Linked DNA regions of Homo sapiens. The protein of the gene in region 1 purifies or fractionates together with the protein of each later gene. This does not show direct contact. Each region holds a gene or a part of one and is shown on either strand. Other genes may lie near its edges. The genes, in order: CUX1 and GRHL1.

Region 1 (3,828 bases):
TCCCTCTTCCAAAAAGAAAAAGAAATTGGGCCTTTTAATTTTGAGCCAGAGAAACTGCTGCGAAGGCCTTTGCCCAGCCTCACCCTGGGAGTTAGTCGTCGTCTTCATTGTCGTCTTCGTTGTCTTCTTCTTTCTTCCTCTCTTCTTCTTTCTTCCTCCTCCTCTTCTTCTTTCTTCCTCTTCCTCTTCTTCTTCCTCTTGCTCCTCCTCCTCCTCCTCTTCTCCCCCAACCCCCACGTTCACTTCATCCCCTGGGAGCTGAGGCTTCCAGGCTCCAGCCTGCAACACATACCGTTCTACTCCCTCTCATCCACAGCCTGCCGGACCACAGGCTGCCCCTACCCCCACTGAAGGGCTGCCACACCAGCCCCGCTTGTCACTGCATTTCTGCTAACTCTTTCTGTTGCGTCCGCACATGACAGGCCCCACCACCATGTGCACATCTGGAAGCCCCACTCAGGTGGCTTCTTTGCCCAAATGCGCTCCTAGTTTTCCACTTCCTGGTGAACCAGCTGTGCTCTTGAGCTCTTGCCCGCGTCCCCTTCTCAGCATCGTCCCATTTCCACTTCCTCACCCCCACGCAACAGGGGATGCTGACCTCAGATCCTCATGCACTGCAGCACAAGACACCCTGTCCCTTCAGGGCCCTTCTCCAATGCTTGTTCATCATGACACTGAGACGTGGTCTCCAATCCATCAAGATCCCTCCTGCTGGGGTCCTCACAAGTTCTGTCTTAATGGACCACTTGGAGTCTTGCCTATTACCTGTAATGGCCTGTAAATTTCCTGGAGTACGGACCAGGAGTGGTTCTGATTCCCCACGGCAACAAGCGGATAGCAGGCTGCTGGTAAAGATCTGTAGAATAGATAAAGAGCCACGTGGTCTTTTATTACATAATCCTAAAGAAAATAGGAAACGAAGGACAGGATTCCATCTTAAGAAACCCCTTTCAGCTGGGCGCAGTGGCTCACATCTGTAATCCCAGCACTTTGGGAGGCCGACAGATCACCTGAGGTCAGGAAACCAGCTTGGCCAAAACCGTCTCTACTAAAAATAAATTATCCAGGTGTGGTGGCTCACACTAGGGGGACAGAGGCCGAAATTGTGGCTGCAGGAACATGGCGAAGGTCCGGTTGACTCTGCACCTGCGAGTCGTAAATCTCACGGTCCAGCCAGCCTGCTCTGGGTCTCTCTCTTCCATCCTTGGTATTTCAAAGAAACACTTGCAGCTCCTTCAAAGCCACATAGCCTCACTTCCCCTCTTCTCCCTGGTAAACTCAGCAAAAAAGGGACATCCACAGCAAAAGGAACTCAAGAAACAGTAATAATCCTGGGGACCTGGACTCACTGAGACAGCCCAGAGACCGTAGTGATCAGGGTGCGGCCCTTTTCAGTGCCATTGAGAACAAGGGAGGGAGAAGTCACCTTCTCTTGCCACATCTTTGTCATTGCACTCCTTCCCCAACCTGGGGCTGCAGAGAAGGTCTGCCCACCTGGCTTCTGAGTCATCCAAGTCTAGGAGGTTGCTCTTTGCCTATGTCCCCTGGTCCCCAGGTAGGTGCCAGTTAGGAGTGAGGTGTGGGCAGTGGCCGCCCTGGTGGGTTCCCCTCTCTCTGGCTTCTCCTTACAACTTTTTCCTTCCCTTTAAGCTTTACAAATACATTCCACTTGCAACAATGTTATGTCTGTATTAAACTTTAAAATTATACTCTGAACAGACCTGGTGTGATTCCATATGGAATGATTTACATGCTAGGCAAGAAACTTTTGCCAGCCAACTGCTAGTTGAATAGTTATTCTAGAGACATTATCAGATTCTATTACTGCCAGGGAAGTTGTTAAAGTTGACAGTTCTTCGGTTCCTGGAGAGCAGGAAATTGTAATGTTAATGCTTATTAATGTGGCTGTTGTCAAAGGTATAAGTAGAAAATAATCACTCTGGTGGCTCATGCCTGTAATACCAACACTTTGGGAGGCTGAGGCGGGTGGATCACTTGAGGTCAGGAGTTCGAGACTAGCCTGGCCAACGTGGTGAAACCCCGTCTCTACTAGAAATACAAAAATTAGCTGGGCATGATGGCACATGCCTGTAATCCCAGCTACTCGGGAGGCTGAGGTAGGAGAATCGCTTGAACCTGGGCAGAGGTTGCAGTGAGCCAATATCGCGCCACTGCACTCTAGCCTGGGTGACAGAACGAGACTCTGTCTCAAAAAATAAATAAAATAACCCCTCTGTTGTGCTCTTGCAGCATTCTGAAGTCCATGGAGTTTGCACCGTCCGAGGGCGCTGGGACACAGGTACGTGTCTCACCTCAATGGTCAGCACTAGCATCAGCCCCGCTGCTGGTTACCACTGGTCCCTCCGGCATATCCCATGATCCACTGTTTCTACGAGACCTCTCACTTACAGCCGATGAGTCATACTTCAAGAACATTTAACCAAGTTGAAGCAAATTATCTTTTTTTTTTTGTCTCCTTTTTTTCCATGTGTCCAAGGCATGAACCAGGCATAGATCAAAAGCCAAGCTGGGGATGAACAAGGGATTGCTTCATCCCTGACTGATAGGAGATGGGCACTACCAAAAAGCAAATTATCTTTAACAAAAAGAGGCAAAAAGAGAAAAGCTAGTGTTTTCCAAACTGGTAACTGAAGTGAAATTGTGATTTCACTTCAGCAGGTACTAAGAACATAAATAAAAAACAATTTCAGATTGTGTTTAAGAAGGCCAGGCTCAGTAGCTCATGCCTGTAATCCCAGCACTTTGGGAGGCCAAGACAGGAGGATCGCTTTGAGGCCAGGAATTTGAGACCAGCCTGGGCAATATAGCAAGACCATGTTGCTATTAAAAAAAAAAAAAATAGCCAAGTACTGTGACATATACCCGTGGTCCCAGCTACTTGGGAGGCTGAGGCAGGAAGATCGCTTGAGCCCAGTAGTTCAAGGCTATAGTGAGCTATGATCGCACCACTGCACTCCAGCCTGGACAACAGATTGAGACTGACTATTTTTTTTTTAATTGCATTAAAGAGCAGCCAAAAATGGATTGGTTTAGGAACTTTAGTTACATGCTGCCTCAGTAGAGAAGGTACAAGGGAAGGATGACTGTGGCCCAGGGTCATCTGGTGGCCAATTAAAATTGACATCCCAGACCAAGCATGGTGGCTCACTCCTGTAATCCCAGCACTTTGGGAGGCTGAGGTAGGTGGATCACTTGAGGTCAGGCATTTGAGACCAGCCTGGCCAATATGGTGAAACCCTATCTCTGCCAAAAATATAAAAAATTAGCTGAGCGTGGTGGCGCACGTCTGTAATCCCAGCTACTTGGGAGGCTGAGGAAGGAGAATCACTTGAACCCAGGAGCCAGAGGGTACAGTGAGCCAAGATCATGCCACTGCACTCCAGCCTGGGCGACAGAGTGAGACTCCATCTCAAAAAATTAAAAAATCAAATCAAATAAAATTGACATCCTAAGTGGAATCTGACTCCTGATGCCCAGAAGACAGCCAACATCTTTGTGGCTGGCAAAAAAAAAAAAAAAAGAAAAGTTCCCTTTACAGTAACGTTCGGACAGACGTTTGTGGCTTGGCAGCCAGTCTTATGGCCAAATGAGGCACGGGCTCAGGTCGCTTGAGTTTGAGAACAGATGAGAGAATAATTAATTTTTTTAGGAGCTGTGGAAGTCTAAGAAGGAAAATGACTTCAACTAGAATCCATTCTTTCTAAAGGGAACTTGTTTTCCACGTGTGTTAAACGACTTGGGGGGAAATCAGCTGTCCGCAGCCCACTTCCTAATCAGATCGAGAGCTGGGTGGGAACGCGGACAGAT
Region 2 (3,370 bases), on another chromosome or scaffold:
TTTTAAAACTAAGCCAAAAAATTCTTATGCTAGCCACTGCTTATCCATGCCAAACATCATAGACAGACAAAAAAGAACTAAAAATACTAATTTCTAGACAAAGCAGCAACGTGACATAACTTGGAAATAGGATCCTGAGCAGGAGGGTAGAGCAGGGCATGGGCTGCAGAGGCAGGGAATACCAACCATGGCCCCGAAAAGCCTCTTGAACTCTGAGCCTCAGCCGCCTGTCTATAAATATAAACAAGCCCTGAGACCAGCTCAGAAAGAAGACGTGAAGACCAAGCGCAGCACCGTGGGACGTGCCCAACCCAGTGCCCGGCTCCAACGGGCTCGACACACGGAGGTGCTGCCCTGGCCATCCTCAGTGGCGCTGGCCACACACCCTGGAGTGTGGAGCCATGGCACTGCTGCCAGGCATGTGGAGGGCAAAGAAGGTGACTTGGAGAAACAATACACAAAGATCTCCTCAAGGCAGATCAATTTTATCTAAGTAATTTCGTATATAATTTAGAAAAGCCACATTCCAGCACCCAGGTTTCTTTGGCTGCTTCTGGACTGGGCACGATGCACACGTGTCACACTGGCACAGGGTGTGTGTCACTGGCACAGGAGGGTGTCACTAGCATGCACGGTGTGTTACATGGTGCTGGGGGGTGTCAACAGCACTGGGGGGTGCGTCACACTAGCACTGCGGGGGGCATCAGCACTTTCCGAGGTACACAGGACGCAGTGGCTGCTTACCCCTTTTTACACTTCTTGAATATTTTCCCAATCTTGTCATGGGGAACATCGTATTTGTCTGAGATCTAAAAGAGGAAAGAAAAATAATTACAAAACCCTGTATCAAGGCTTTAGAAACCAAACAACAAATATATATATATGTATATATATGTGTACATATATATACGTATATATATGTGTACATATATATACGTATATATATATGTGTACATATATATACGTATATATATGTGTGTACATATATATACGTATATATGTGTGTACATATATATACGTATATATGTGTGTACATATATACGTATATATGTGTGTACATATATATGTATATATATGTGTGTACATATATATGTATATATATGTGTACATATATATGTATATGTATATGTGTACATATATATGTATATGTGTACATATATATGTATATATATATGTGTACATATATATGTACATATGTATATATATACATGTACACACATATATACATATGTATATATACGTATATATATGTATATATATACGTATATATATGTATATATACGTATATATATGTATATATATACGTATATATATGTATATATATACACACACACACACACACACACACATGCATAGTCACTCGACTTTTTGTTTTTCAAAAACGCAGACACAAAGACATGGAAAAGCCCCAGCTCGTGTGCTGGGGGCCTCCAGCTCTCCTCAGCCCGGCTGCCCCTCACTGTAATGAGCTTCTGGGGAGCTGTGGCTGTCTTCCTTTCGGGACATAGAGGCTATTTTTAATATTTTTAAAGAGAATGGGTGAATTGCTCCAAGGACAAACAGCTGATTCACTCTAGATCAAACGTTACACTTGTCATCCAGACCATCCTCAGGCTGGCATCACCAGCTTCACCTCAAGCCACAGAGCAAAGCTCAAGGTGGCACTGAGAAACAGAGCCTCAGGTGGCAAACGTGCAGATCCTGCCAACCTTCCAAACACGTGTTTCAGACCAGACCCCAGCTCCAAGTTCTCACCACACAAACCCTTTTTCTTTTCTGTACGAGTGGATGATAATACTTTGTGTTCTGACATGTAAGACCTGTCATGAGTTCCTCGTGAGCCATGAACAGTTATGCTGGCCCAGTAATTCTGCATCCTCTTTACTCTCCTCTTTCCCTGTAATCAGAATTTGCATGTTTTTTGTTTGTTTGTTTTTTGTTGTTTTTTTTTTTTTGAGACGGAGTCTTGCTATGCCAGGCTGGAGTACAGTGGCGGGATCTCAGCTCACTACAACCTCCACCTCCCTGGTTCAAGTGATTCTCCTGCCTCAGCCTCCCGAGTAGCTGGGATTACAGGCGCCTGCCACCAAGCCTGGCTAATTTTTTGTATTTTTAGTAGAGACAGGGTTTCTCCATGTTGGCCAGGCTGGTCTCGAACTCCTGACCTCAGGTGATCCTCCTGCCTCTGCCTCCCAAAGTGCTGGGATTACAGGTGTGAGCCACCGCACCTGGCCAGTTTGCATGATTCTTAAGACATGATGAAGGGTCATCAAAAGGCAAGAAAAGAGAAACCCAGGGGACATCCTAGGAGGCAGGAAGTGACAGTGGGAACGGCGCTGCCTGTGCTGTGGGCAGGCAGGGATGCACTGAGTGACACCCGTGGACTTGGGGCGCCTGGCTGAGAGACCGCACAGCAGCTCCCCAAACCCACGCCCCATCTCCCTGCTTTATTAATCTTCATGGCACTCATCAGTACCTGAAAAATGACCTCAACTTCTTTGCTTATTTTGGTGTCTGTGTCTTCCTAACTACAAAATAAACTCCATTCAGCACTGTGTCACTGACGCGCATAACTCCAGTGCCCGCCACAGTGCCTGGCATGAAGCAAGCCCTTTATCAAGATGTGTTAAATGAATTCAACACACTACAGTCATCAGAGGGAGCTGGGGGAGATGCTTTTAGCCCAATTATGGACACACTTTGAGCTTAAAGATCTCTACGGTCTCTAGGAGACAGGCTGGTAAATATCTGCACTCAGTGCTGATGACATGCGTTTTTCCAGTGCACAGCTGGAACGGGAAATTAACACAGCAGCCTTCCATGTTTCCTCTCTTACTGATATCCCCACAGGGAGCATGGGGTCAGTTTATTCCAGCCTCGTGCTGAGATCCTCGTAAGATGGACTTACGGCCATCACTGGTTACACGTCTACTTTCTCTGCAATAGGCTGTAGTGAGGTCTTGATGCAAGTTCAGTAATTTCCTAGGATTGGGAGTTTTAAAGGTAGACTGAGGAGCCACTGTTTTTATGTATGAAGTTTTTAAGATTGTACTTGATTAAAAATCACTTTTGTTAGCTTCTAAGTGGCTTGCTAAATGGCAATCTCCCTTTAACCACGTATATAAAAATTAAACATTTCATAGGCCATCACAGATGCATTCACTTCAGTGGAACAGGTGTGACTGAGTGACTGTGTGAGTTAAGACCCCTGGGTGAGGATAAAATGTGGGACGCACGACGACTCGAGAAAGGTGTCAGGGATTCCAGAAGGTCTGACAAAGGATTTGGATCATCTGATAAAGTGTTTCAATGAAATCCTATGTACTTGTCCTTTCATTTTGTACAGGGGATTACAGAGTTGATCCTACTT

Evidence for each region.
Region 2: the proteins of CUX1 (region 1) and GRHL1 purify together in Homo sapiens (co-immunoprecipitation; one large-scale study listed by IntAct). This does not show direct contact.

What each region holds. Positions count from the first base shown.
Region 1 is NC_000007.14:102,191,592-102,195,419, forward strand, and holds part of CUX1 (Homeobox protein cut-like 1), read left to right. Parts: intron 1-2,250; coding exon 2,251-2,299; intron 2,300-2,484; exon of another isoform or gene 2,485-2,614; intron 2,615-3,828. UniProt on the Homo sapiens protein: May be involved in intra-Golgi retrograde transport.
Region 2 is NC_000002.12:9,996,404-9,999,773, reverse strand, and holds part of GRHL1 (grainyhead-like protein 1 homolog), read right to left. Parts: exon of another isoform or gene 3,347-3,370; intron 810-3,346; coding exon 745-809; intron 1-744. UniProt on the Homo sapiens protein: Transcription factor involved in epithelial development. Binds directly to the consensus DNA sequence 5'-AACCGGTT-3'.